2 separate regions of the Homo sapiens genome follow, and region 1 is linked to region 2. The links come from fine-mapping of genetic effects on gene expression. A gene starts in region 2. The other region holds a variant in brackets. All regions are shown on one strand. Distances are between the middles of the regions. Region 1 has its middle 40 kb from the start of CCR6. Region 2 holds the start of CEP43 (centrosomal protein 43).

Region 1 (15,994 bases), 88 kb before region 2:
GCAAAGACGCCCTCTGTCCCTTGGACAACTACAGGTCAGGGAAATGAATGGAAGTCACATGAGACTCTACTCTTTCAAATTCCCTTTTAAAGTGGAAATTCCCTCGCTTGGTTATAGTATTAAAGGGAACAAGCCTAAGAAGTGGAATTACAGGAAAAATGGGCACGTGAGGATATGAGAGTATAGATGGTGTACGCTCATAGATGGTACAGAGTAGATGGGCATCATTTGGATAGAGAAACACAAAACACTCTTTGCTGAACTTGAAGATGATATTGCTGGTTAAGAGCACAGACTTGGGAATTATATCAGCATTTGAATCTCGACTCTTGACCCTACTACTTCCTAATGGGGTGATGTGTGTAAAGTTGTTAATCTTTCTGAGCCCTACCTGCCTCATGTGTGGTATATAGAGATGCAGGCACCTCAAAGGCCTGAGTCTGACACACAGTGGATGGCGAAAATTGGAGAGCTGGAGGAGGAGAGGCACATAGGTCATGCCTAAGTCATGAGAACATACAAACAACAAAATCAACAATAGAAATCTAGCTTCACTTGATTGATCCAGCTTGTCGGAAGATTGCTAAGAGATTCCACTCAACAACTAAACCGCCGTTCCACACTATGATTGCTGACTTGAGGCTGGTAACACCTTTTGGGAACGCTGTCTTGGGAACGTTCACAGGAAAATTGCTCCTTTGGGTACAAGGTTTTGAGATACAATCTCTGGGTCAATGAGTACTTTACATACAGGAACCCCAAAATGGAGGAAGTAGGCTATGGAGGAACAAGAAAAGAAGGGAAAAACAAAGCAGCCACAGAGGCGAGGTGGCTGCTCCCCTTCCTGCCACCTGGAGGAAGTTGGAGGCTAGTTCTGGAGACATCACAGTTTCTATTACTTTGGTTACTTGGCAGAGCCTAAAAACTTCCTCTTGTGTGGAAGAAAGAAAATCCTTTCTGTGTTGCTCCCTGGAGGGAAGAAAACCAGGCTGACTCTTGCTTCCATTTGAGGAGCTCAAAGGAAGCCATTTCCCACGATGGTCCCCCAGGCACAATCCTGCATGGAGCCCAGCCCTGGCCCACAGCTCCTTGACTACAATCCCCTTGACCCATTCATCACCCTTGCCACTGGCCCTATTCTTTGTGACTTGGCTCAACACTGGTGACTTCTTCTGCTGCCCTATTCACCTCCAGTCTGAGACTCAGGAGCATGTGGCCACCTGCTGCCACAGAGATGCCACACACATGGCCCAACGCCAACGGGGTCGCTTAAAATACATTGCTGATCTGTGGCCTATGTCTGGAGGAAAGGGGCCGGTGGGGTCCTACAGTGACCCGAGAGGCTCCTATTCTGAACCACAGAGAGCACCACACCAAGAGGCTGGTGTGATATGCTGCTGGGCCCACAGTTTTCATGGGCCCCATGTGCCTGGAGTGAAAGGTCTTTAGATCAATCAAAGAGATCCAGTGTCTGGGGAGTTCTTGTTTCTTCACACTGACCACTTCAATAACGCAAGGACGGGGATTTTCTTGGCTTTGACCAAGGCTGCAGTCTCTCCAGAGCTGAAAACTCAAGTTACTTCTGCCTGGTTCTGGCCTCCCCTGACTCGGCTCTGCCATTAACCAGTAAAACTAGTATCTCCTGTTCTAGAGGGAGGTCGTCATCCTGGTAGAGGGCCATGTGTAAGGATCTGCACCCCTCTGTTTAATTCTCCAGGAAGGTCACTGCAGCTGAGGTCAACTTCCTCCCCAGAGAAGCAAAACCTGTTGGCTGCAGAGGCTGCTTGTTAAACAGAGAGGCGTTACCTCCAGGAGATGTGTGACATCAGACTTTTCAGGGATAGTGCCCAGAAAGCTCAGAAACTTTGCTTAACAAACTCTTCCAGGTGATTCTGATATTAGCTAAATCTGAAAACCACAGAATTAAATGATGTTAGTTTTTTTCCCTCGAAATTTAAGTTTCATACTGACCCTTGAACTACTTATACTGAAAACATTTCAAACATTGATAGTTCATTGATACTAGCAACTGATCTGAAATTATTACTTTGCCTAAAAAAAACTGACAATTTCAGAATATTATCATTCCTTAGTAGTTTGCATTTATGACATTAGATAGTTCCAACTCCTTCCTCCACTTTGTGCAAATGATTTCATGTATCTTATTTCTACATCTGTCATAAACCCTGTTTACTATTTTTAATTTAGTTAACAATTTTTTTTTTTTTTTTGAGACAGGGTCTCACTCTGTTGCTCAGGCTGGAGTGCAGTGGTGCAGTCATGCCTGACTGCAACCTCACCCTCCTGGGCTCAACCTCCTTGCCTCAGCCTCCTGAGTAGCTGGGACTACAGGCATACACCACCATGCCCAGCTAATTTTTGTATTATTTGTAGAGACAGGGTTTCACCATGTTGCCCAGACTTGTCTCAAACTCCTAAACCCAAGCCATCTGCCCATCTCAGGCTCCCAAAGTGCTGGGATTACAGGCATGAGCCACTGCACCTGGCCACCATAGTTGACAGTCTTTTAAAGAATCAGCCATGAGAAAATGTTTTTAATATCCACTTTTACTATTTCTGGTGCTCACTTCTCTGTGTAACCCCAAATTTTTATCTGGTATAATTTTCCTATAGCCTAAAGAACTACCTTTAACATTTATTGTAGCACAAGTCTCTCAGCAGTGAGTTATCTTAGTTTTTCAGGGTCTAAAAAGCTTTTATTTTTGCCTTTAATTTAAAACAATATTTTAATGGATCTGTAATAGAATAATAGAATTCTGGATTAATTGTTTCAGTACTTTAAGATGTCAGTTCATTAACATCCAGCTTACATGTCTGACAAGAAATCTATTACAATTATCTTTCTTCTTGGGTATGTAATGTCCCCCACAACTCCCAAATGCATTCTACATTTTCTCCTTATCTTTGGTTTTAAAAAGTTTGATTTTATGTGTCTAGGTGGGGTTTTTTTTTTTTTTGGTATGGAGATTTTTTATTTGTTTTTGTATTTATACTGTTGGGATTCCCTGAGCTTCTTGGACCTGAGGTTTGCTGTCTTGCATTATATTTGCAAATTATCTCTTTAAATATTTCTTCTGTTTTATTCCTTGCTGTTTGTTTGCTTGTTCTGGGACTCCAACTGCATGTACATTAGATGATCTCACAGCTCTTGGAGGCCTTGTTAGACAGAGTTTTTCCCTCTATTTTATGTTTTTTTTTTTGTTGTTTTTTTTTTTTTTTTTTTTCTGAGACAAGAGTGTCACTCTGTCGCCAAGGCTAGAGTGTAGTGGTGTAATCTTGGCTCACTGCAACCTCCGCTTCCTGGGTTCAAGCAATTCTCCTGCCTCAGCCTCCCGAGTAGCTGGGACTGCAGGCATATGCCCCCACACCAGGCTAATTTTTGTATTTTTAGTAGAGATGGGGTTTCACTGTGTTGTCCAGGCGGGTCTTGAACTCCTGACCTTGTGATCCACCTGTCTTGGCCTCCTGAAGTGCTGGGATTACAGGCATAAGCCACTGTGCCCAGCCCATTTTATGTTATTTGTGTGTCATTTTATATGATTCCTGTTGACCTATCTTCAAGTTCCTTAATCTTTCTTCAGCTGAGACTAGTTCACTGATAAGCTTTCTGAAGGAATTCTTTATGTCTTATATATTTTTTGTAGCATTCCCACATGTCTTTTATACTCTCTATCTCTCTGCTGAAATTTCCCATCTGTTCATGTATGCCATATGCCTTTTCCTCTAGATCATTTAACAAATTCTTCAGGGCTTTTTTGTATTGTTTTGTTTTTGTTTTTGTTTTGTTTTGAGATGGAGTTTTTGTTCTTGTCGCTCAGGCTGGAGTGCAATGGTGCAATCTTGGCTCACTGCAACCTCTGCCTTCTGGGTTCAAGCAATTCTCCTGCCTCAACCTCCCTAGTAGCTGGGACTATAGGCACCCAGCACCACGCCTGGCTAATTTTTGTCTTTTTAGTAGAGATGGGGTTTCACCATGTTGGCCAGACTGGTCTCGAGCTCCTGACCTTAGGTGATCTGCCCACTTTGACCTCCCAAAGTGCTGAGATTACAAGTGTGAGCCACCATGCACAGCCTCATCAGAGTTATTTTAAAGCCCCTGTCTTAGAGTTCCCACATCTGGGCCATCTTGAATTCTGGTTCTATTGATTGATTGCTTTATAAGTTGACTATGAGTTGTTTTTGTTTTTGTTTTATTTTGTTTTCTTAACTGTCATTTTTTGATTTACTGCTGGAAATCATGTGTAAAAGTAGACACTGTTTATGCCCTTAAAAAATAGTTTCATGTCAGGGTGAGGCATCGCCTCACCCGGGAAGCACAAGGGGTCAGGGAATTCTCTCTCCTAGCCAAGGAAAGGGGTGACAGACGGCACCTGGAAAATCGGGTCACTCCCACCCTAATACTGCACTTTTCCGACAGTCTTAGCAAACGGCACACCAGGAGATTATATCCTGTGCCTGGCTCAGAGAATCCCATGCCCACGGAGCCTCACTCATTGCTAGCACAGCAGTCTGAGATCAAACTGCAAGTTGGCAGCGAGGCTGGGGGAGGGGTGCCCGCCATTGCCAAGGCTTGAGTAGGTAAACAAAGTGGCCTGGAAGCTCGAACTGGGTGGAGCCCACCGCAGCTCAAGGAGGCCTGCCTGCCTCTATAGACTCCACCTCTAGGGGCAGGGCATAGCCAAACAAAAGGCAGCAGAAACCTCTGCAGACTTGAATGTCCCTGTCTGACAGCTTTGAAGAGAGTAGTGGTTCTCCCAGCATGCAGCTGGAGATCTGAGAACGGACAGACTGCTTCCTCAAGTGTGTCCCTGACCCCCCAAGTAGCCTGACTGGGAGGTACCCCCCAGTAGGGGCAGACTGACATCTCACACGGCCAGGTACTCCTCTGAGACAAAACTTCCAGAGGAATGATCAGGCAGCAACATTTGCTGTTCACCAATATCCGCTGTTCTGCAGCCTCTGCTGCTGATACCCAGGCAAACAGGGTCTGGAGTAGACCTCTGGCAAACTCCAACAGACCTGTAGCTGAGGGTCCTGACTGTTAGAAGGAAAACTAACAAACAGAACATCCACACCAAAACCCCATCTGTACGTCACCATCATCAAAGACCAAAGGTAGATAAAACCACAAAGATGGGGAAAAAACAGAGCAGAAAAACTGAAAATTCTAAAAATCAGAATGCCTCTCCTCCTCCAAAGGAATGCAGCTCCTCACCAGCAACGGAACAAAGCTGGACGGAGAATGACTTTGATGAGTTGAGAGAAGGAGACTTCAGACAATCAAACTACTCCAAGCTAAAGGAGGAAGTTCGAACCCATGGCAAAGAAGTTAAAAACCTTGAAAAAAGATTAGACGAATGGCTAACTAGAATAACCAGTGCAGAGAAATCCTTAAAGGACCCGATGGAGCTGAAAACCACAGCATGAGAACTACGTGACAAATGCACAAGCCTCAGTAGCCAATTCCATCAACTGGAAGAAAGGGTATCAGTGATGGAAGATCAAATGAATGAAATGAAGTGAGAAAGGAAGTTTAGAGAAAAAAGAATAAAAAGAAATGAACAAAGCCTCCAAGAAATATGGGACTACGTGAAAAGACCTAATCTACGTCTGATTGGTGTACCTGAAAGTGACGGGGAGAATAGAACCAAGTTGGAAAACACTTGCAGGATATTATCCAGGAGAACTTCCCCAATCTAGCAAGGCAGGCCAACATTCAAGTTCAGGAAATACAGAGAACACCACCAAGATACTCCTCGAGAAGAGCAACTCCAAGACACGTAATTGTCAGATTCACCAAAGTTGAAATGAAGGAAAAAATGTTAAGGGCAGCCAGAGAGAAAGGTTGGGTTACCCACAAAGGGAAGCCCATCAGACTAACAGCGGATCTCTTGGCAGAAACTCTACAAGCCAGAGGAGAGTGGGGGCCAATATTCAACATTCTTAAAGAAAAGAATTTTCAACCTAGAATTTCATATCCAGCCACACTAAGCTTCATAAGTGAAGGAGAAATAAAATCCTTTACAGACAAGCAAATGCTGAGAGATTTTGTCACCACCAGGCCTGCCTTACAAGAGCTCCTGAAGGAAGCACTAAACATGGAAAGGAACAACCGGTACCAGCCACTGCAAAAACATGCCAAATTGTAAAGACCATCGATGCTAGGAAGAAACTGCATCAACTAACGAGCAAAATAACCAGCTAACATCATAATGACAGGATCAAATTCACACATAACAATATTAACCTTAAATGTAAATGGGCTAAATGCTCCAATTAAAAGACACAGACTGGCAAATTGGATAAAGAGTCAAGACCCATCAGTGTGCTGTATTCAGGAAACCCATCTCATGTGCAGAGACACACATAGGCTCAAAATAAAGGGATGGAGGAAGATCTACCAAGCAAATGGAAAACAAAAAAAGGCAGGGGTTGCAATCCTAGTCTCTGATAAAACAGACTTTAAACCAACAAAGATCAAAAGAGACAAAGAAGGCCATTACATAATGGTAAAGGGATCAATTCAACAAGAAGAGCTAACTATCCTAAATACATATGCACCCAATACAAGAGCACACAGATTCATAAAGCAAGTCCTTAGAGACCTACAAAGAGACTTAGACTCCCACACAATAATGGGAGATTTTAACACCCTACTGTCAACATTAGACAGATCAATGAGACAGAAAGTTAAAAAGGATATCCAGGAAATGAACTCAGCTCTGCACCAAGCGGACCTAATAGACATCTACAGAACTCTCCACCCCAAATCAACAGAATATACATTCTTCTCAGCACCACACCACACCTATTCCAAAATTGACCACATAGTTGGAAGTAAAGCACTCCTCAGCGAATGTAAAAGAACAGAAATTATAACAAACTGTCTCTCAGACCACAGTGCAATCAAACTAGAACTCAGGATTAAGAAACTCACTCAAAACTGCTCGACTACATGGAAACTGAACAACCTGCTCCTGAATGACTACTGGGTACATAACGAAATGAAGGCAGAAATAAAGATGTTCTTTGAAACCAATGAGAACAAAGACATAACATACCAGAATCT[C/G]TGGGACACATTTAAAGCAGTGTGTAGAGGGAAATTTATAGCACTAAATGCCCACAAGAGAAAGCAGGAAAGATCTAAAATTGACACCCTAACATCACAATTAAAAGAACTAGAGAAGCAAGAGCAAACACATTCAAAAGCTAGCAGACGGCAAGAAATAACTAAGATCACAGCAGAACTGAAGGAAATAGAGACACAAAAAAACCCTTAAAAAAAAATCAAGGAATCCAGGAGCTGGTTTTTTGAAGAGATCAACAAAATTGATAGACTGCTAGCAAGACTAATAAGGAAGAAAAGAGAGAAGAATCAAATAGACGCAATAAAAAAATGATAAAGGGGATATCGCCACCAATCCCATAGAAATACAAACTACCATCAGAGAATACTATAAACACCTCTACGCAAATAAACTAGAAAATCTGGAAGAAATGGATAAATTCCTTGACACATACACCCTCCCAAGACTAAACCAGGAAGAAGTTGAATCTCTGAATAGATCAATAACAGGCTCTGAAATTGAGGCAATAATTAATAGCTTACCAATCAAAAAAAGTCAAGGACCAGATGGATTCACAGCCGAATTCTACCAGAGGTATAAGGAGGAGCTGGTACCATTCCTTCTGAAACTATTCCAATCAATAGAAAAAGAGGGATTCCTCCCTAACTAATTTTATGAGGCCACCATCATCCTGATACCAAAGCCCAGCAGAGACACAATAAAAAAAGAGAAGTTTAGACCAATATCCCTGACGAACATCGATGCAAAAATCCTCAATAAAATTCTGGCAAACCAAATCCAACAGCACATCAAAAAGCTTATCCACAATGATCAAGTGGGCTTCATCCCTGGGATGCAAGGCTGGCTCAGCATACGAAAATCAATAAACGTAATCCATCATATAAATAGAACCAACGACAAAAACCACATGATTTCTCAATAGATGCAGAAAAGGTTTCCGACAAAATTCAACAGCCCTTCATGCTAAAAACTCTCAACAAATTAGGTATTGATGGGACGTATCTCAAAATAATAAGAGCTATCTATGACAAACCCACAGCCAATATCATACTGAATGGGCAAAAACTGGAAGCATTCCCTTTGAAAACTGGCACAAGACAGGGATGACCTCTCTCACCACTCCTATTCAACATAGTGTTGGAAGTTCTGGCCAGGGCAATTAGGCAGGAGAAGGAAATAAAGGGTATTCACTTAGGAAAAAAGGAAGTCAAATTGTCCCTGTTTGCAGATGACATGATTGTATATCTAGAAAACCCCATCGTCTCAGCCCAAAATCTCCTTAAGCTGATAAGCAACTTCAGCAGAGTCTCAGGTTACAAAATCAATGTGCAAAAATCACAAGCATTCTTATACACCAATAACAGACAAACAGAGAGCCAAATCATGAGTGAACTCCCATTCACAATTGCTTCAAAGAGAATAAAATACCTAGGAATCCAACTTACAAGGCACGTGAAGGACCTCTTCAAGGAGAACTACAAACCGCTGCTCAACAAAATAAAAGAGGATACAAACAAATGGAAGAACATTCCATGCTCATGGGTAGGAAGAATCAATATCGTGAAAATGGCCATATTGCCCAAGGTAATTTATAGATTCAATGCCATTCCCATCAAGCTACCAATGACTTTCTTCACAGAATTGGAAAAAACTACTTTAAAGTTCATATGGAACCAAAAAAGAGCCTGCATCGCCAAGTCAATCCTAAGCCAAAAGAACGCAGCTGGAGGCATCATGCTACCTGACTTCAAACTATACTACAAGGCTACAGTAACCAAAACAGCATGGTACTGGTACCAAAACAGAGATATAGACCAATGGAACAGAACAGAGCTCTCAAAAATAATGCCGCATATCTACAACCATCTGATCTTTGACAAACCTGACAAAAACAAGAAATGGGTAAAGGATTCCCTATTTAATAAATGCTGCTGGGAAAACTGGCTAGCCATATGTAGAAAGCTGAAACTGGATCCCATCCTTACACCTTACACAAAAATTAATTCAAGATGGATTAAAGACTTAAATGCTAGACCTAAAACCATAAAAACCCTAGAAGAAAACCTAGGCAATACCATTCAGGACATAGGCATGGGCAAAGACTTCATGTCTAAAACACCAAAAGCAATGGCAACAAAAGACAAAATTGATAAATGGGATCTAATTAAACTAAAGAGCTTCTGCACAGCAAAAGAAACTACCATCAGAGTGAACAGGCAACCTACAGAATGGGAGAAAATTTTTGCAAGCTACTCCTCTGACAAAGGGCTAATATCCAGAATCTACAATGAACTCAAACAAATTTACAAGAAAAATACAAACAACCCCATCAACAAGTGGGCGAAGGATATGAACAGACACTTCTCAAAAGAAGACATTTATGCAGCCAAAAGACACATGAAAAAATGCTCATCATCACTGGCCATCAGAGAAATGCAAATCAAAACCACAATGAGATACCATCTCACATCAGTTAGAATGGCGATCATTAAAAAGTCAGGAAACAACAGGTGCTGGAGAGGATGTGGAAAAATAGGAACACTTTTACACTGTTGGTGGGACTGTCAACTAGTTCAACCATTGTGGAAGTCAGTGTGGAGATTCCTCAGGGATCTAGAACTAGAAATACCATTTGACCCAGCCATCCCATTACTGGGTATATACCCAAAGGATTGATTATAAATCATGCTGCTATAAAGACACATGCACACGTATGTTTATTGCCGCACTATTCACAATAGCAAAGACTTGGAACCAACCCAAATGTCCAACAGTGATAGACTGGATTAAGAAAATGTGGCACATATACACCATGGAATACTATGCACCCATAAAAAATGATGAGTTCATGTCCTTTGTAGGGACATGGATGAAGGTGGAAACCATCATTCTCAGCAAACTATCGCAAAGACAAAAAACCAAACACTGCATGTTCTCACTCATAGGTGGGAATTGAACAATGAGAACACATGGACACAGGAAGGGGAACATCACACACCAGAGCCTGTTGTGGGGTGGGGGGAGTGGGGAGGGATAGCATTAGGAGACATACCTAATGTTAAATGATGAGTTAGTGGGTGCAGCACACCAACATGGCACATGTATACATATGTAACAAACCTGCACGTTGTGCACATGTACCCTAAAACTTAAAGTATAATAATAAAAAAAGAAAGCTTCATGTGTGGTGCAGGGGATGAAGTGTTTGCCCATCTAGTCAGGAGTGGAGCTGGATTTGATTTTTTCTTTTATAATTATCACCTTCAGTGCACCACAAGCTTCAGAACCCTCCGGTGATAGATGCTGGGGCTGACATGGGGCTGACCTATGGAGGGTTTTTCTCAGGATTCTCTCTCCATCTTCCACTTTCAGCCATTCCCACGGAGGACCAGGAAGTTGCGGCTGTTTTCTCCAGTGACCCCATTCGAACGCTGCTGCAGTGACTGATTTCAACTGAGAAAGGGTGAGGCCTAGACAGGCAAGCATGAGATGAGGGACGCGTCTTCGGGTCACTTGTTGGGGCTGAACGCTGTGTCATTTGCTGTTCTGTAAGGAACGCCTGTAGTGGTTCTTGGGGACCAGAGTGGAAGAAAAAAAAACATTCCTCCTTCTCTCAGAAGTTGAAGATTCAGGGAACGCAAAGCCATTTTCATTGATTGGCTGTGCAACTGCCCATTTCTTAATGAGAACCCTAGAAAGCATAACTTCTAATTCAGAAAGGATGCTGAGGTGTTCTCTAGGCTAGTGTTTCTCAAGCTTTCATGTGCAGACGAAGCACTGCAATGTGAATTCATGTGGATTCACTGGTTCTGATACAGTAGCCCTGGGAGGGCCTGAGAGCTCCAGGTGACAGCAAGGCCCTGGCCTGGGGCCACACTTTGGGCAGCAAGGCTCTGGCACACACAATGAGAGCCAGACCCGGGACCCGTGGAGCACTTCCCGAGGATCTGAGGCTCTCATCGCTCTCCACCACAAAACGCGCTCTACTGGAGGCAGTGACACAGAATTAGAAACTCCACAAGTTGACTGAAAGGATGTCTCAACTTGAGGACCTGAAACTGAGACGTTTATCAAGGGCCCCACTGGAACAACGGGGACTTCCCCAGGTTTCCAAGACAGACCAAAAAGCACAGCAACAGCACAAATGGCAGTGCCCCTCAATGGCTGTGAGTGACATGACATGTGGCAAGCCCTGCTCTGAGCCAGGCCGTAAGCCAAGCATGTTTAGGAACGTACAGCCTCGTCCCAGGGTTCATGGTGTACTTGCTTTTCAAATGAATGTCTCATCTGCAAATCACATATTATCATGCCTGGAGAACATGATAAATGTGTTGTTCATATTTCATTTTGTTTTCTATAAATATTTCATATCCTCCTCTGAAGCCCAGGAATCTACCTTGCCGGCCATAGGACTTCCACTTTTCATTCCCATTATTCACAGACCCGCTAGAGGTTCTGCCTGTGTGTGTCCCTCTATATTAAGGAATATTTCATTCCACTTATGCTAGAGCACAGTAGACATCTGCTGCTACATGAGTGTTTCTAAAGCTTCCACCTCTGTGAAAATGTGCATACTGGGGATCTGTGCTATATTTAAAGGAAGATCTTAAGAAACGCCAATTCCCCATCGTAAGATAGAACTCAGGCAGTGTCGTCTAATAACAGATCATCCAATGACATGAAAGTTTTCACCAAAAGAAAAGGAGTTCCTGCTGATGCTTCCATGGGAATAGGGTCTATAGGAATCTGCTGTTCTTTCTGAAAAGGTTTCTTATCAGCCCCTCAGCAACACTCTGTAGGAAATCCTCACTTGCTGTTAGAAGCAACTATACTCAGATTTTCATTATAGAAAGAGTATTGCTTCAGGCTCCAAGTCTACAGTCCCAAACCCAACTTTATCTGATTATTAGTTCCTAGAAAAAGGTGTTCCTAGAAAAAGGTATTCCTAAATATCACTTTAAATTAGACCATAAAATGATGAGTCTTATTTTGAATTTTCTTCTGGGAATAAAAAGCTGTCATCCATTGTGACATCTCACATGGCACAGGCATTTATAGAACGCCAGAGTCATGTTATCTGAAAGTGAAATTAGTGTGCTCCAGAATCTCTCATCTTTCTCTGTGTCTGTGGGGCAGTCATTCGTGTTTCATCAGTATTTCCAGGTCTCCGCCTTCTGAGCACGGAACAGATCAGCCTTCATCACTGTCGGGGGTTACAGGACTTGCTCTGCTAATTTACTGAGACGAAGGCAATGTGTGCACTTCTGAGCGAAGCCTTCTGGTTCTGGTGTCCAGTTTGCTCTGTTCTTTCCTCTCCCTGGTACCCCACAGGGTGGAACCACGTGCAGCACCTCCAAGTGACAGCCCTGTGGGGCAGGCCTGGGAGGACACAGAGCCAGGTGAGACATGAGGCTGCTGGTTACTGTAGGAGAGTCTAGCCTCTCCTTACTGGTATGGGTGTTTTATCATAAGTAACAGGTTTGGAAAAATCCAAAGGCAAACAAAGATTTGCATAAAGATAAACAGTCTTAAAACTGTCTTACCCTTCTAGAGCACTTCTGCAAGAGAAGCTGCAATGGACTGGATTACGTCTCTCTAAAATGCAATATGGTGTAATGGGCTGAATATCTGTGTGGTCCCCAAAATTCCTATGTCAAAATCCTCACCCTTAAAGAAAGGGATGCTATTAGGAGGTGGGGCCTCTGGGAGGTGATTAGGTCGTGAGGGTGAAACCCCATGAATGGGCTTAGTGCCCGTATAACAGACCCCTGAGAGCTCCTTCGTCCCTTCTCCCTGTGAGGATGCAGTGAAGGCAAGAAGGTGCCGTCTGTGAACCAGGAATTGGGCCCTCACCAGACATCGAATCTGCCGGCACCTCGATCTTGGACTTCTAGCCTCCAGAACTGTGAGAAATAAATGTCTATTGTTACAACAGCCAGAACGAACTAAGACCAAGATGTGTTTTTGACAGACTCTGAAGGCTATTTATGTGCTGGGATCATTGCAATCTGTTCTTCACCTTTTTAAGAGTGTGGGATTTCACTTCCTAGATGTTATCAAACAGGCTGCATTCATAATTCTGGCTAACTATATGTGAGTGATTTCTCTGTACCCAGCAATGTGCTAAGTACTTTGCATGGAGTAATAATATTTCTCTTAATAAACCTATGCAAAAAAAAAATATTACAGATGAGGAAAGTGGAATTGAGAGAGGAAAGAAAACATACCCAGAGTCACAGGCCTGTAAGCAATGAAACTAGGGTCAGAGCTCAGGCCTATGTTCTGCTCTTGGTAAACAGAGAAGCTGTGACCTATGGATCTGTCTCTACACCTGCGCCCTATGTCTGGAACATACACCATTGAGAATTGCTGGCTCTGTGTGGCGGCCCCACAGACAATTGTTAACAGCCTTACGCATTGCTGAGGACTGACGGACCTTGGCAAGAACTCGGTCCTCTTAACATCCTCGACAGCTTGGGAATCGCAGAGGTGAGCAGAAAATAATAAAGTCTGAGAACCCACTATGTATTAGATATGGTTTTCCCATTTAAAACTCACAGCCTTTATGCAAGCTAGGTGTTATCTCCATTTACCGATGCGAAACTGAGACTCGGAGAGAGTGGAAATGGTTTGACCCTAACACAATCCGTGCACTTCAGAATTAGATTTCAACACAAAATTGGCCTGTTATGTACTGACCCTCTTTCCCCACATGACGGTACGAGTTATAGGACTGGATTCCAGGAAGGGCAAGCCATTCTGGAGGTCACTGGAAAGGTCAGATGCTGAACAGCTGCACCGTGAGGAATGAGGCTATGGGGCACTAGGGGGAAGCGTCAAAAGGGGACTCAGGAAGCTGATCTGCTTCGTAATTACATCTCCCAGGCCAGGTGCTTTGTCTCCAACTCACATCTGACTTAGTCACCACATTGTCCAGGTTATTTTAAGGAAAAATCAGAAACTGAACCGATTTTTTTTGCCAAACTGCTGAGGCTTTGTTATAAAGAAAAAACCAATGTAACCACCTGCTGGCTGTTCCCCCAAATCCATTCTCCCCTTCTTTCTGGAGAGCTGGAGAATGAATTTTCAAAAATTGACACATCAACTTGATTTCTATAATGGTTATGTTTAATTAAGATCCAAGGATTTACTATTTTAGTTTAGACAAGATCTATCCAAAATTTTAAGGACTCTGGTAACTAAGATTTATAAAATACAAGTCTAAAGTATTCCACTCTAAAGAGTTTAGCAGATAAAAACACTATAGGTAAATTTCCAGGAGAAAGAAGATGAGAAAATAGGTCTTAATTCCGAGTCACCAAGTTTCACCACCCCTTTAGTACTGCCTCAAAATCTTGACAAAATTAGGGGTTGCCTCACCTTCCTGGACAAAGTCTAACTTAGATTTATTTCCTTGCAATGAGGCAAGTTTCAGGACACTCAGAGGCAGAGTCCAGCCCAACAATCTTGCTCTGCCTTTGTCCCATAAGGTACAGTTTTCACTGGGGTGCAGATAGCATCTGCTTTGCTTCCAGCCCCCTGTTGAAAGTGGAACCTTTTCCCTGTTTCAATAGCCCAACTCAAAACACTTCACCCCACCCCACTCGCTGGCATGAGCCCACCTGGTTTCAGGGACAGACACTGGGAGATGCTCTGATCATGGCTGGGGTCTGTGGACTGTCCAGGTGACTCCTTCAGAAAGGGGAGGTTTTCTGATGTCTTTGAACAAGTTCTACTGGGCAGAAATGGTGAACTAATGTTGCCATTTAAATATAACTCTCTGCTACTTTTGGATAAACGTTCGATGGAACACTAAATCATTCTTCTCATGTCATTTGAAGCAAAAAAAGGAAGGAAGGAAAGAAGGAAAGGGGAGGGAGGGAGAGAGGATGGAAGGAAGGAAGGAAGGAAAGGGGGAGGGAGGGAGAGAGGAAGGAAGGAAGTGAGGGAGGGAGGGAGAGAGGAAGGAAGGGAGTAAGGAAGGAAGGAAGGAGGGAGGGAGGAAGGGAGGATGGAAGGAAAGAAGGAAGGAAGGAAGGAAGGAAGGAAGACAGGGAGACAGGTAGATCCCTTTTCTCTAACAGAAAAAAATACCTAGCAAGTATGTTTCTAAAAACATGAGATGGTCGGGTGCAGTGGCTCATGCCTGTAATCTCAGCACTTTGGGAGGCCAAGACGGGCGGATCACCTGAGGTCAGGAGTTCGAGACCAGCCTGGCCAAGATGGGGAAACTCCGTCCTCACAAAAAAATAAAAATAAGCTGGGCGTGGTGACTTGTGCTTGTAATCCCAGCTACTCAGGAGGCTAAGGCAGGAGAATCACTCAAACCTGGGAGGTGGAGGTTGCAGTGAGCTGAGATCACGCCACTGCACTCCAGCCTAGGCATCAAGCAAGACTCCATCTCAAAAAGGAAAAAAAAAAACCAAAAACCATGAACTGATTGAACTGATTAAATAGGTATGATTTCCCATTTTTAGATAATGAAACTGAGAGATTAAATAACTGTCTCAGAGTTTAACCAGAGAAGCAAAACCAGTAGAAAATCTATTCGGAAGGTAAGTTTGTTTTCTCTCCATTTGATGCTGGTGCTTCAGGTTGGCAGGGCAGGCAGTCAGGAACGAAAATGGATGTCGAGTGGGAAAGAAGGGAGCAAACTGGATGTAAAGCATGAGAACCAGCTGGACCCTGAGTCAGCTCTAGTTTCCTCTGACCCAGGTGACAGAGAATCTTTGTCACAGAGCTAAACACTAGCTGAATACACTGAGTGAACAGTGTGAGAAATTGGAGGGGGATCAAGGTTGTCTGGAATCCTAAGGCCAAGGATTTCTACATAGAAAATCACCAAGTCTGTGAGTAGGAACAGTTTTGTATCTTCTTTCAAATCT
Region 2 (15,220 bases):
AAATCACAGATCCAAGCAAAGACTTGTATGTGACTGTTCACAGAAACCTTATTTGTAATACTCAAAAACTGGAAACAGCCTAAATGTCTGTCAGCAGGTAATGGCTAAACTGTCATATCTGTACAATGTATTAATGAAATGATTTATTAATACATACCACAACATGAATGAATTTCAAATGCATTATGTTGAAGAAACAGACCAAAAAAAAAGAGTACCTACTATACGATTCCATTTATATAATTCTTAAAAAGGTTTGGGGTGGGGGAGAGGGTTACATAAGGGGCACAAGGAAAACTTTTGAAGGTCAAAAGTTTGAAGGATATGCGCAGTACCTTGATTGTGATGATCATTTCACAGCTGCATAAATTAACTATTAAAAATCAAATTGTACATATTAAATACTTTAGCTTTACTATAGGTCAATTTTACCTCAATAAAGTTGTTAAAATAAAAGACAAGGAGAGGAGAGATCCTCAAGGTAGTTGGTAGGCTGGTTCAGGGAATTCTAAGATAGGGAGTCAACTGAAATATTTTAAGAGAATGGAGGGACAGATCAGATGTGTACTATAAACAGCCAATCTAGGAGCAATGTGGAAAAAGGACTTCAGGGAGATGGTGAGGGACACCACGGAAACGGAGACTGGCAAGTAGGAAGGGGATAAGGCAATCTGGAAAAGAAGAAACAAGCACAAAGGAGGCAGCAGAGCACTCCCTTGGGGACACTTCAGATACACACCTGACAGACACAGAGCCAGGTGATGGCTGAGCAGGTGGAAAGAAGAGCAAGGCCTAAGAAACGCTTAGATTTCTTGCCAGATAAATGATGGTCCCATTAAGGGCATAATACAGTGGGCAGTTTAACATACAGGTCTGAAGCTCGGGAAAGAAACATGCATGAAAGTTACAGGGCTGGAGTTACTGGATGAATAAGGTCAGTCTGTGAGACAGTACAGAATGACAACTGTGGATAAGTCTCAGTCAGGTGTACAGGAAAAAGATCATGCTAAAGAAACCAAGGAGTGGTCAAAACCAGGTTGTGAAGGAAAAAAACCACAGCGGTATTAAAAGCAGAATGTGAGTAAAGGAAAACAGTTTACTCCTAATAGTTATTTAAACATGTTTTCAAGCTCAAAAGAAAAGCCATCAGAAAAGGAAGGGGTCAAAGATACAGTAAATAATTAAAGACTTGAAAGTATACACAAGACAGAGTGATTATTCTTGGACAGGACAGAGCCTCTTCTTCTAAAGCAGTAAGGAAAGAGGTACAGATAAACATAGACACAGGTAAGCATTTTCACAGGTGAGCAATAGATTGAGGGACAGGAGAGGAGGACATAAAGTTAGGATCTAATGGCTTCTACCTTCCCTGTGGAGGAAGCAACAAGACCATGTGTTCAGAGAGAAGGAAGCAGGGGTGACATAGAAGGCTACTGCACAGCTAGGGTGAAGAAGAGAGCTGCTGGGCCTGCTCAGGACCTAACCAGGTTGGTACCTGCCAATTTGCAACATCAGCAATCCACAGGATTGACTGACTCTTCTCCAAGAGCACATATGTGCAAAGTGGGAAGAGTTAGTTTGCTGGGTTAAATGACCACTGAGATTTCTTCCAGACCACGTATGACCGTTAAGGCAAGGTAATTAGGGGTCCAGACCCATAGGGTCCAGAGCAAAATGCTGCCAAGAGAAGACTGATGCCTGCACAGACATGGAAAGGGCAAAGAACTGAAGATTTTGATGAAATTAGAGATTAGGTATACAGGTCTAAAGAAGTGAGAGGACAGTAGACTGATTTGTCATACAGCAAGAGTTTAAGGCTTTGATGATGGTTCTATTCTTGTTGACAAATTCCAGAATATTTACTCAGGATGGTTGGTGGGACTCCGAAAAAGTTAAATTACCCACTTAAATATAGAGTAGTGGCTGCACTTTTAAAATAATCGCTGTCTTTTTCATTGTCAAAATAATTGAGTGGTCAGATAATTTTGGGAAAAGTTGCATACTATATACCCCGTTTCATAGGGATTAATAACATATTAGCTTACTAAAGGATCTGAGTGAACCTGCACTTAACACATTGACAATGGCACCATTTCTTCAAGAAACTCCTATGACCATTTGTTTCAGATTAAGCATTAGTATCAGAGTTACTGTGGTACCTTAAGATTACCCCCAAATTCAAAAGCTACACGAAAAAAGAATAATTTTGGCTCTCTCTCAATAGTAATGTAATCCTTAACAGTTCAAAATTATCCCTAGCTATATGTTACTATAAACTATTTTTAAGACGGTTTTTAATGAATAAGAAATTAAGTATTAACGAATACAGCCATGTTAAAATCTGGAAACTTCATACCTCTACTTTTTCTTGCTCCTCTAGTGCTAAAAACACAGCTGCTCGGAGTTCAGCCTTAAAAAAAAGTTAAGAAACAGGAAATTATAATTTCAAGACAATTTTCACAACAAGCTCACATTTATCCAGCAACAAACACGAGCAAGCCAACGAGCTGGGAGGGCAGGTGCAAAGGTCAGAAACGCCTTCCGAAACGTTCTCAGTCACACAAGCTCTCCGACCCCCAGGCTTCGGCTGGACGCGCTGCTTTCCCGCCGCGGATCATGCCCGAGCCTGAGGAAGAGACGCTGGGGCCGCACTCCAGGGCCCAGCTGCGGGCCGCCCGTGTGGCCCCCAAGCCCCGCGGTCCCGCCCCCACGGAATGAGGCAGGGGATGGGCCAGGCACCCCCAGTCCGCGGTGCCCTCCGGGACCACACGAACGAACGAGCCGACCCCCTCTGTGGGGCGGGCAGGACGGAGGCCATGCCGGGGCGCGCCCCCAGTGCCCGCCGGCCCCGGTCCCTCGCCAGGGAGGCGGCCTCCTCGCCGCGACCGTTGTGACGCCCGCTGTCCACGCAAGCCCTGCGGATCCGCCAGGCCCGGCCCCAGCCTCCGGCCTCACCTTGATGCGGTTCAGGACCCCGCTGTTCTCCAGCGTCTGCACCAGCAGGTCCCGCAGCTCCGTGTCCTCCTCGGCCACCACTGCGGCCGCCGTCGCCGCCATCTTGCTTCTCCAAGACAACCGCCGAAGCCGCGCTAACGGCCAACGGCCGCAGCAGGGTACGCTCCGCGCGCGGGCTACGCGGCCGACGCAGCCAAAGCCCCGCCCCGACGCGCAGCGCGCTGGCCCTGCCCCCTGGCGTCGGGAGGCGGGGCATAGAGACCTCGGGGTTGACGCTGGACACCGAGCCTTGGGGAGCGCCGGACCACTGAGCGCCGAAACTTAGGGTCGGCGCTGGGGGCGGGGCTGCGGGGCGCGGGTGGGCACGCAAGGGGCGGGGCGTCGGCGGGGCCTCCAGCCGGCAACCCGTTGGCTGCCGTCGCCTGAGGCGCGAGCTTTGAAGCCGGCGAGCGGTGAGGAGGAGGCGCCCTCGCGTGTGGAGAGCGGACTCCGCCTGGACTCCACCGCCCACGGCCGCATCCCATCGCCGCACAAGATCGCCGGAGTCATATTATCGACGTAGTTAAAGCCCACTAGCCTAAAGCCGGGCGGACTGCGGTAAGGAGGCCCCGAGACCGAACCTGCAGCCCCTGCAGCCCCGGGGGGGCGCCGGGGAAGGGACTCCCGAGAGGTCGCGAGGGGCGGAAGGCCCTGCAGGTTGTCACCCGGAAATAACGTTCTGAGGCCCCCCAGCCAGGCGAACGCACCCTGCTCGGCCACGGCCTCCGAGGCTAACCGGAAAGGTGCCAGGCCGAGGTGCAGGGGCGGGATGGCCCCAGGAAGAGCCGAGGGCCGAGGAGGGCGTTGGGTGGGCTCCGCGCTGCCCGAACTGGGGCCGCAGTCTCCACTCCCTCCTGCCCCGCGGCCCTCCGCCGACAGCCAGGCGCCGGCGGGGAGTCCTGGACCCCTCCCGGGCCCTGGAAGCCCCGTCCCGCCGGAGCTGACGCGCCCTCTTGGTATCCATCCGGCCGCCTGGGCTGCCCCTCGCCCCTCGCCTTGGCAAAACCAGCCCCCGGACCGAGCCCTGCCTTGGAGAGTGTGGGTGCGCAAGGCCAGCCGAGCTGTCGGTTCCGGGGTTTCGGGGTGCGCCACTGTATGGCGGCGTAAGCCGAGAAGTGTCCGAGGCCGGGCTCCAGCAGTTGAGAGGCTGATTTGGCCACGGTGAAGGACGCGCCCGGAGGAAGGAAACGGGAATCCGAAACGGGCGGTGGCCGCGCCTTTCCCGAGGCCGGCGTCGAGGGCTTCAGCGCCTCAGGGTGGGCGGGAGGGGAAGGTCGTGCGACCCGCGTGGCCGGCGGAAAGGAGCAGCGGGAGCCGCGGCCGTAGGGAAGCCACGGGAAGACGGGCGGCTGCGCTGCGATGCGCGGCCCTCTCCCTGAAGCCCTCGGCTCAGGCGCCACAGGAAAGGCTCCTTCGGGCAGGCCTCAGCTTTCAGCTTAAGTTTTTTTCCTTTGGCCGAGTCAACTGCGGTGCCGAGTTGTATTTTCCTTTCAGAGGTGTGTCCGAGAACCATTCTTAGGAGACGCCTGCCGGCCGCTTTGGGATAGGGCCTGTCTGCCCATGCTGGCTTCCAAAGGCCTCTGTGTGTTCCTGTATGTGGGCGTGCACGTACCTGTCACATGTGTACGCGCAGACCACAGGATGTCCACACTGGCTTCCAAACACATCTCTGTGTTTCTGTCTGTGAGTGTGTACGCAGGTGTCAAATGTGTACGCACAGATCACAGGGTGTCCACACTGGCTTCCAAACACGTCTCTGGGTTCCTTTATGTGCGTGTGTATGCACTTGTCATGTGTACACACAGATCACAGGGCATCCACACTGGCTTCCAAACATGTCTCTGTGTTTCTGTCTGTGGGTATGTACACACATATCACATGTGGAAGAGGTAGGAAGAGGCTGGAACAGGTAAGGGTCATGAAGGTGCAGTGCACTATTGTACTGTTTGCGCTTTATATGTGTTTGGTTAGTTTTGCAAGAACATGCTGGTGAAGGAGAGAGAACCCCAAACAATTGATTAGCAGTGCTACTGAAACTCAGATATACACAGGAATGGCAAAGAAACATCTATGAAAAAAAGCAGATTCTGGAACTCCATCTCCCTGAGATTGTCACTCATGGGGTCTGCAGGAAGTTTCAGGAATCTGCATTTTCTTCTAATAAACGTGGTCCACAGGTTATAAGTTGAGATACAAATAGAATATATAAAGTAAAAAAGGAAAATTTGAAGTTTCCTGCCTAGCCCAACTCTTCTCATTGGTAGTGTCTGTTAAATTGGAAACATATCTCTTTCCAGACATATTAATACCTTTTATACAGTTGACTCTTGAACAACATTAGTTTGAACTGCGTGAGTACACTTATATGTGGATTTTTTTCAGTAAATGGAATATTTTTGGCGATGGCAACAATTTTGTGAAAAACCTCACAGATGAGTCGCTTAGCCAAGAAATATGGAAAAAAAAAGAAAAGAAAAAGCTAGATATGTCATGAATGCATAAAATATATGTAGATACTAGGCCATTTTATTATTTACTATCATAAAATATATACAAGCCTGTTATAAAAAGTTAAAATTTATCAAAACTTACACGTACAAACAGACAGTTACATGGCACCCATTAGGTTCAAGAGAGGTGTAAACAGTTGTAAAGATGCAATATTAAATAATAACTGCATCAAATTCACTGTAGTACATAGAGTACTACTGTAATGATTTTGTAGCCACCTCCTGTTGCTATTGCAGTGAGCGTCAGTGTTGCTGGTATTGGCTAAAAATTCCAAGTAACATAATCATCTCTGAGTGAGCAGTTGATCTCTCCAGTACATTGCATATCACAGTAAAAGGTAAGCTCTTGAGGTTCTCACATATTTCTCGTTGTGTTCACTGCAGTACTGTAAACCTTGCGTAACACCATGGGACCATTACGAAGTGCCGCTAGTGGTGCTGGAAATGCTCCCAAGAATCAGAGAAAAGTTAATGACATTACAGAAAAAGCGGAATTGCTTGCTGTGTATTGTAGATTGAGGTCTGCAGCTAAGGTCGCCTGCCATTTTAAGATAAATGAATCCAGTATAAGGACTGTGGTATAAAAACAAAAGGAAGTTTATGAAGCCATCGCTGCAGCTACACCAACAAGCATGAAAACCTTGCACTTTTTGGGAAATACCTTTTTATCTCATATTGCAAATGCAGCTTTTTGTGGGTGCAGGATTGCTATGAGAAAGGCATACCTATATAATCTAATATTCAAGAAAAAGTGAAGTCATTATCTGACAAAGCAAAAGGAAGATGAAGGAAGGTATGATAATTTTAAAAAGTGGGTTGGCTTTCAAAAAATGTCAAGATAACAGGAGAAGCAGCTTCTGCTGACCCAGATGCAGCCGACGAGTTCCCAGATACCATTAAGGAAATTATTGAGGACAAAAGGCCAGGCTTTGTGGCTCATGCCTGTAATCCCAGCACTTTGGAAGGCTGAGGTGGGTGGATTGCTTGAAGCCAGGAGTTCGAGACCAGCCTGGCCAACATGGCAAAACCCTGTCTCTTCTAAAAATACAAAATTTAGCCAGGTGTGGTGGTGCACATCTATAATCCCAGCTACTGAGGAGGCTAAGGCATGAGAATCGCTTGAACCCAGGAGGCAGAGGTTACAGTGAGATTGCACCACTGCACTCCAGCCTGGGAGACAGAATGAGACTCTCTCAAAAAAAAATAAATAAAAAATAAAAATAAAAAAAAATAGAGAAAATCACTGAGGAGAAAAGATATCTGCCTGAACAGGTTTTTAAGGCAAACGAAAATGCCCTATTCTGGGGGAAAATAGTGCCACAGAGGATATTTATTAGGAAGAGAAGTGAACATCAGGATCCAAGGCGGGAAGGGATGGGCTAACTGTACTGTTTTGTGCAAATGCAGCCAGATGTATGATCAGGACTGCCCTTATCTATAAAATTGAGCCTTGAAGGGAAAAGAAACACTGCCTGCCACTCTTTTGGTTGTACAGCAAGATGGCTGAGCAGCAACTCTTTTTCTGGATCAGTTATATAAATGCTTTGTTTTTAAAGTCGGGAAGTACCTTGCCAGTAAGGGATTGCCTTTAATGTTCTTTTGATATTGGACAATGCCCCTGGCCACCCAGAACCCCATGAGTTCAATACAAACACATTGAAATGGTCTACATGCGCCTAAACACAACACCTCTAATTCAACCTCTAGATAAGGGAGTCATAAGGACTTTAAGGATCATTACACACAGTACTCTGTGGAAGAGAACCCCAATTGAGAGAATATCATGAACGTCTGAAAGGATTACACCATTGAAGATGCCATTGTTGTTTCAGAAAAAACCATGAAAAGCCATCAAGCCCAAACAAATTCCTGCTGGAGGAACTCCAGATGTTGTGCATCACTTCACAGGATTTATGACAGAGCCAATCAAGGAAATCATGAAAGAGATTGCAGATATGGCAAAAAAGGTTTCAAGATACAAATCTTGGAGAAATTCAAGAGCTAAGAGACACCACACCAGAGGAATTAACAGAAGACCACTTGATGGAGATGACTCCTTCTGAACCCAGTGCCAGACGATGAGGAAGAAGACGAAGCAGTGCCAGAAAACAAATTGACATTAGACAATCTGGCAGAAGGGTTCCACTTATTCAATATGGCTTTTGACTTCTCTTATAACATGGACTTTTCTATGAAACAGGCACTGAATCTAAAGCAAATGGTGGAAGAAGAATTGGTGCTAAATGGAAACATGTTTAGAGAAATGGAAAAGCAAAAAAGTCAGACAAATTATGATGTATCTCCATCAGATTACACTTATTGTGCCTCCCTCTCCTGCCTCCTCTTCCACCTCTTCTACTTCTGCCACCCCTGAGACAGCAAAGCCAACCCCCGCTTCTCAGCCTATTCAAGGTGAAAATTATGAGGACGGAGACATTTATGATGATTCACTTACACTTAATGGAGAGTAAATATATTTTCTCCTCATGATTTCCTTAAAACGTTTTCTTTAGCTTACTTTATTATAAGAATACAGTATATAACATATGTAACATACAAAATTGTCGAGTGCGGTGGCTCACATCTGTAATCCCAACACTTTGGGAGGCTGAGGCAGACGGATCACTTGAGACCAGGGGTTTGAGACCAGCCTGGCCAACATGGCGAAACCCCGTCTCTATTAAAAAGATAAAAATTAGCCAGACATGATGGTGCGTGCCTGTAATCGCACCTACTCGGGAGGCTGAGGCAGGAGAATCTCTTGAACCCAGGAGGCGGAGGTTGCAGTGAGCCGAGATTGCACCACTGCACTCCTTGCCTGGGTGACAGAGCAAGACTCCATCTCAAAAAAAAAAAAGTGTTAATTGTTTATGTTGTTGGTAAGACTTCCGATCAACAGTAGGCTGTTACTACAGTTTTGGGGGATGGAATTTTGACTGTGAGGGTCTGTGCCCCTAACCTCATGTTGCTTAAGGGTCAACTGTACATAGATATGTTACATACACACACATACTTCCTCCCTCTCTGTAATTTGGATCCTATGCCTATTATCTTTTAGTTTACTAACTTGACTTAAGAAGTCCTGATCATTTTTTGATGTTCATGCATACCGTATAGATCCTACCTCATTTGACTCCTACAAAATATTTGTTAAGGGTGTTCTAAAAGTTACTTTTTGTAGTTAAACTACACTTTATTTACATTTGTTTGTTATGGAAATAATGCATAATAATCGTTAAAAATCCAAACAAAAGGGGGGAACATATTAAAAGAAAAGTAAGGGTCTCCCTGCTACTCTACCTACCTACCCACCTACCTTATCTGTTACCATATCCTAGACCCAACTGCAATTAACAATTTCTGGTTTTAGTTCTTCTGGTTCTTTTCATTATAACCTTAAATACTGTACATATACATCTTGACTCACCAGCTGAAAATCCTTCAAAGGGACAAAAACTTATTCTTAACTCCTAATTTAAAAAATTGTATTACTTTTAGTTTTGCTAGAAGCTTTCATGACTTTAGGTTGTTTACCTAAATCATTATTTATAAATTTTACACACTGTATATTGGCTCCCTACTAGGAGAGGTGAGGAATTGGTACATTCTTACTTTCTCGTCTTTTCCCCTCCCCCTCCTAATTTTGTTAGTTTCATTCTCATTTTTAGTCTGTCAAGAATTTGCATTCTTTTTGTAAATAAAATTACAGACATCCCTTGGTATCCATGGGGGATTGGTTCCAGGACCTCTCGTATACACCAAAATCCACATACACTCAAATCCCACAGTTGGCCCTGTGGAACCTGTGGATATGACCATTCGCATCCCAAGAATACTGTATTTTCCACCTATTCTTGGTTTCAGTTGTGGAACCCACTGATATGGAGGGCCAACTGTATATATTGAAAACAATTTGCATATAAGTAGACCCACACTGGTTCAGACCCCTGTTGTTCAGGGTCAGCTCTATATCTTTCCAACTTTGTGCATTGATTGAAAAACCAACAACAGTATGATATTAGGGCTATAACAGATCTGTTAGGCCAAGCCCACATGCCCCTGAACAGAACATTCTGCACATTGGGCCAACTTCCAACTGCCGGCACCTGAAGTTATTTGCATTATCAGCTATCTTTGTCCACCAGAGCCTGCTCTGCCTGCATTTTGGGAAGACCTAAAGTGCCAAGGAATTAACACACCCTGCAAGTATGCTCAATTGAAGGCAATGAATAGAAAAAGACCCCTGACTCCTTCACCCCTGGATTTCAGGGAGGTAAATCCAAGATGTATGCTAAGGAGGTGACACTTAATGTCAGACACACACACCTGTTATGAGAGTTTCCTGATTGAATAAGAAAGAGGCATTCCAGGCAGAAGTACCCGAACATACAAGAGTGCAAGACCAAGAGGCTAAGGCAGATTGCTCTGTGCAAGAAGTGGCAGGTAGTGTGGCGTGGCTGGAGATGAAGAAATGACTGGATTGGGAAGGACTTTATCCACCAATCTAATGAATTTGACTTTCATCTTGAAGGTGTGAAATAGCGTGCTAAACAAGTTTAAAAGCAAAATGTCATTAGCCTATTTGTATTTAGAAAGAGCACTCCAGAAGCAAGGAGGGGATGGGTGAATTGGATGTACTGACACTGGAACAAGGAAATTATTCCAATAGTCCAGGAAAGAAGAAGGACATCAACTAAAATTGCACAAGTGAACATGGAAAAAAGAGGATGCGTCTGAGAAATATAAATATTGGCCGGGGCGGTGGCTCACACCTGTAATCCCAACACTTCGGGAGGGTGAGGTGGGCAGATTGCTTGAACTCAGGAGTTCAAAACCAGCCTGGGTAACATGGCAAAACCCCTCTCTACACAAAATACAAAAATTAGCCAAGCGTGATGGCATGGCCTGTAGTCCCAGTTACTCAGGAGGCTGAGGTGGGAGGATCACTTGAGCCTGGGAGGTTGAGGCTGCAGTGAGCCATGATCTCGCCACTGCACTCCCACCTGGGAGATAGAGTGGGACCCTGTCTAAAAAAAAAAACAAAGAAATATAAATATTGTATTAGGGTTTACCAAAGAAACAGAACCAATACGATATATGTATGTATACGGGTATATATATAAGGAGATTCATATAAGGAACTGACTCACAAGATCACTGAGGCTGGCAAGTCTACAGGATGAGCCAGCAAGCTGGAGACCCAGGAGAACTGATGGCATAGTTCCTGACCAGAGGCTAGCAGGCTTGAAATCCAGGAAGAGTCAGTGTTTCAATCTGAGTCTGAAGGCAAGAAACAAGCTGATGTCCCAGTCAAAAGATCAGAAGGCAGGAGAGATTCTTTCTTACTCAGGGAGGATCAGTTTTTTTGTTTTATTCAGGCTTCTAACTGATTGGATGAGACTCACTCATATGTTAGGGAGGTCAATTTGCTTTACTCAGGCTATCCATTTAAATGTTAATCTCATCCCAAAACACCCTCATACACACACCCAGGATAATGTTTCAGCAAGTATCTGGGCACTCTATGGCCCAGTCAAGTTGACACATAAAATTAATCACAAATATGTTCCAGTAACTTAGTTTTTAAACAACTAGATTCTTATGAGAATAAACTCAGGATAGGATAGGGGAAATGCTTTCTGGCTTTCCACTTGCATATTCTTGGAATGTCACTTTTTCTTAAATGTTAAAAATTGAAGGCCAGGCATGGTGGCTCATGCCTGTAATCCCAGCACTTTGGGAGGCTGAGGTGGGTGGATCACGATGTCAGGAGTTCCAGACCAGCCTGACCATCATGGTGAAACCCCATCTTTACTAAAAATACAAAAAAATAGCTGGGAGTGGTGGCGCGTGCCTATAATCCCAACTACTCAGGAGGCTGAGGCAGGAGAATCACTTGAAACCTGGGAGACGGAGGTTGCAGTGAGCCAAGATCACGCCACCGCACTGCAGCCTGGGCAACAAGAATGAGACTCCATCTCAAAAAAAAAAAAAAAAAATGAAAATGTGTCGTTAATCATCGAGATAGTCTTTCAGTCTGCACTCAGTAATATTAATGCCTTCTCATTGAAGTCATCTATTCTGTTCCCATAAAGATCAGGATAGTTTAGGTAGTGGTGAATAAATAAGGTTCTCAATGGCCTATTAGTTTTTTTAAATGTTCAAAAGATAGTAGCATGTTGGGAAAAGAGATGAATTCCACATTTCTTTTGGTACAGTACAACTTACTGAAATTGCTTTCTTATTTCAACAAGGATTTACCAGGTTGTGTGTAGTGGTTAAAAGCATGGACTTTACAGCCACATTACATGGGTTCAAATCCACTTACTAGTTATGTTAACCACAGGAAGTTAGCTAATGTCTCTCTGCCTCAGTTTTCTGTTTGTAAATTAGGATAAAAATCTCCGTAGATGTGAATATGTATAGCTAGATAGTAGATTGTATTCAAAATCCCAATCATAACATAATAAAAATATTAACTATTATTAGTTGTTTTGAATATACAACCTAATTTCATTTTCTCCATGATCTGAGCATGTTGAGTTATTTTTAAACAACTCCATTTTACAGATGAGACAGTGTTCCAATAAGCTAGGTAGTATGCCCACAGACACACAGCTAGCAGCTGAGATGAACCACCCAAGTCTATTTGGTTTTCAGCTCATGTTCTTTTCATGATATTTTGCTTTCTCTCAATATTTATAGAATTTAATTTAATTGACTAGAATTAAACTAAGAGAAAATGATTGAATGAAGAGATGCAGAAGGCAAGAGATAGCAAAGGTCATTCTGGGCTGGGCATGGTGGCTCACACCTGTAATCCCAGCACTTTGGGAGGCCTAGGCGGGTGGATCATCTGAGGTCGGGAGTTCAAGACCACCCTGGCCAACATGGTGAAACACCCCCGTCTGCTAAAAATACAAAAATTAGCTGGGTGTGGTGGCAGGCGCCTGTAATTGCAGCTACTCGGGAAGCTGAGGCAGGAGAATCGCTTGAACTGGGGAGGTGGAAGTTGCAGTGAGCCGAGATGTGCCATTGCACTCCAGCCTGGGCAGTAAGAGCGAAACTCCGTCTCAAAGCAAAAAAAAGAAAAGCTACCTTTACCAAAGACAGTTAAAATGATGGCCACCAAGGGGCAGTGTGCAGCAGGCAGAGAAGGTGGCTTTTTAAATTATTTTTCACTGCCTGCTGAGACAAAGATGTTACACCAGAATATGCCACCCTAACATATGCTTCTTTGGCATAAGGATTATTTTGAGCTGAAGACGATTGAGAAGAAACAAATAAAAGAAAAACTCTGCCTTCCCTTTCTTTGCCTAAAGGCAGGACATGCTAGTTAATGATCAACCCCTGACCTAATCGGTTATGTTACCTATAGATTACAGACATTTTATAGAAAAAGAAAAACACGGTGAAAATCCCTGTCCTGTTCTGTTCCATTGTAATTACCAGTGCATGCAGCCCCCAATCACATACCCACTGCTTGCTCAATCGATCATGACACTCTCATGTGGACCCCCTTAGAGTTGTAAGCCCTTAAGAGGGAAAGGAATTGCTCACTTGGGGAGCTCGGTTTTTGGAGACGTGAGTCTGCTGATGCTCCCAGCTGAATAAAGCCCTTCCTTCTACAACTCGGTGTCTGAGGGGTTTTGTCTGTGGCTACAAACCTGTCTTTGGCCAGTCTAATTTACAGGACCTCAGCCAGAGAACTAAGATGGGTAGAGGCAATACAGGAGATAGAAATAATTTAGGTAGGTAGATAGGGTGAAAGAGTCCCTGACAAAAGCTTTTCTTCTGACAAAAAACAGCTCAGAAATTACTTCCATTCTAACCACAGGCAGTCCAAATAAATCACTTCTCTTTTAACAAAGAGCAGCCTGGAAGATTGGACTGTATAATGTAGATAAGCATCTCCGGCACAGAGGGAGAGTTTCTTGGGTAGTCACCAAACTTACATAAATGGGTCCCAGTAAAAACAGTAGGCTTTAATGAGCACATTCCTTTCCCCTTTTTTGGACAGGGACACACTAAGGTTAGCTAGAAGCTTGCATGGTGGGGTGGGGGAAATGCCTGCAGCTGCAAGGAGGTACCCAGGACAAGGCATGGAAACTCCCCCTATTCTTGTTAGCACATGCAAGGTGGAAGGAGAAAGGCAGTGTGGAGTCGCCCAAGCTAAGAGCCTGCCTGCATGATAAAAGAATGGGGTAGGGGCTGCCAGAGATTCCACTCTATACAGATGACACACCTGGTCCTAACCAGGTTTTCATGCCCTATGTAGATAAGATACCCGCTCCCTACTAGCTCGTTGATAAAAACCCTCCATTTTACTGCAGCACGGCAACCCGTCTGGGACCTCTCTCTGTGAGAGAGAGCTGTCCTTTTCCTTTTGCCTATTACACTTCTCTAACTTCACCCTTTGTGTGTCTGCATTCTTCATTTCTGTGGCCATGAGACAAAAAACCTCAGCTGATATCCCAGACAACAAGGCTGCTTTAGAGGGAAAACGGATAGCTAATATTATCAGTTAATTGGCTATGTTAATTGATACCTTCAAATTAGGTGTTTTAAAATAAATGCTGAGAACAATATGAAAGTGTTTTTCTTTTACTAATTCTCTGAGGATTTTGTTATTTATTTAGCTTTACAATGCCTAGCCCCCTTTATAAATGTAATTATTGTGTTGCTAAGTGCATGTATACAAAAAATTCATTGGTTCAAAAGCCATAGGCCTGGTACCATAGCCATATATGGTACGTTCAAACCTTGGAAATGCACATTCTCAGTGTGTCGGAAGCTCTGTACTGCTCCTTCTTGAAGAACTACTTTGATTTGTGGTTAACTCGCTGTTTTGACTCACTGTTTTAACTCCCATTACTTCAGTATCTGACATTCAGCCTCAGAATCTGGCCAGTGTATCAGGGCTGGAATTAATTGATTAACACCATTAGATGGCAGTACTATTTAAATTCCAAAAATGGTTATAAACTCATTCTCTAAAATGTGTGTCAAATAGAATATTTGACTGATAATAACTCTAAGAGCACAAAAGGATTAAACACACACACAAGACAAAGTTTGGGATATACCCATTGGAAAAACCCTTGGTCTCTTTAAATTTTTTTTCATATGTATGTATATTGCACATATTGCCGGCCTCTTTATCTCTTTTTTCCTTTTTTTTTTTTTTTTTTTTGAGAAGGAGTCTTACTCTGTCACCCAGGCTGGAGCACAGTAGTGCAAACATGACTCACTGCAGCCTTGAACTCCTGGGCTCAAGCGACCTTGTCACCTTAGCCACTGTGACCAGCCTTCTTTTCCCTTTTGACTTTGTTATATCACACTGACTCTAGAAATGTGGTTCTTTATTGGGGCGATTTTGCCCTCCCCCGGGGACATCTGACAAGGTCTGGAGACATTTTGATTGTGGGTAGGGGGAGGGACACTCTGCTACAGGCATCTAGTTGGCAGAGCCCAGAGATACCGCTACACACCCTACACTGTGCAGAACAGCCCCTACGGCCAGGAATTATCAGGCCCAAACAAAATACCAAGTTAGTTTTTAATTTCAAAGTTTACGCGTAACATTATTTTTTAGATATAAAAAATATTCACACATTAATTTGATCACAAGAAATTTTAAAGAAATTTAAACATTTTCAGAAAAGGCTACTTCAAGGTGTCATGACAGCTTTGGACCAAACATTAATGTTCTATAT

The links. PIP is the estimated chance that this variant, and not a neighbour inherited with it, causes the effect.
Region 1: its variant is fine-mapped to the expression of CEP43 in whole blood (TOPMed, PIP above 0.99).

The regions. Positions count from the first base shown.
Region 1 is chr6:167,075,220-167,091,213 of GRCh38, reverse strand. No RefSeq gene overlaps it. Among named protein-coding and RNA genes, the nearest start is that of CCR6, 40 kb to the left of the region's middle. RefSeq lists enhancers at 10,465-10,965, 11,011-11,350, 12,181-12,360. The variant C/G (reference allele first, on the strand shown) is at 7,091.
Region 2 is chr6:166,987,250-167,002,469 of GRCh38, reverse strand. CEP43 (centrosomal protein 43) reads right to left here and starts at 3,073. Exons shown (of 13, transcript NM_007045.4): 1 at 2,956-3,073; 2 at 2,357-2,410. The coding sequence starts at 3,057. It overlaps MIR3939 (microRNA 3939), which reads left to right and starts at 4,558; the gene lies at 4,558-4,663. RefSeq lists silencers at 2,612-2,701, 2,712-2,871, 2,962-3,481, 3,772-4,001 and an enhancer at 4,542-4,591.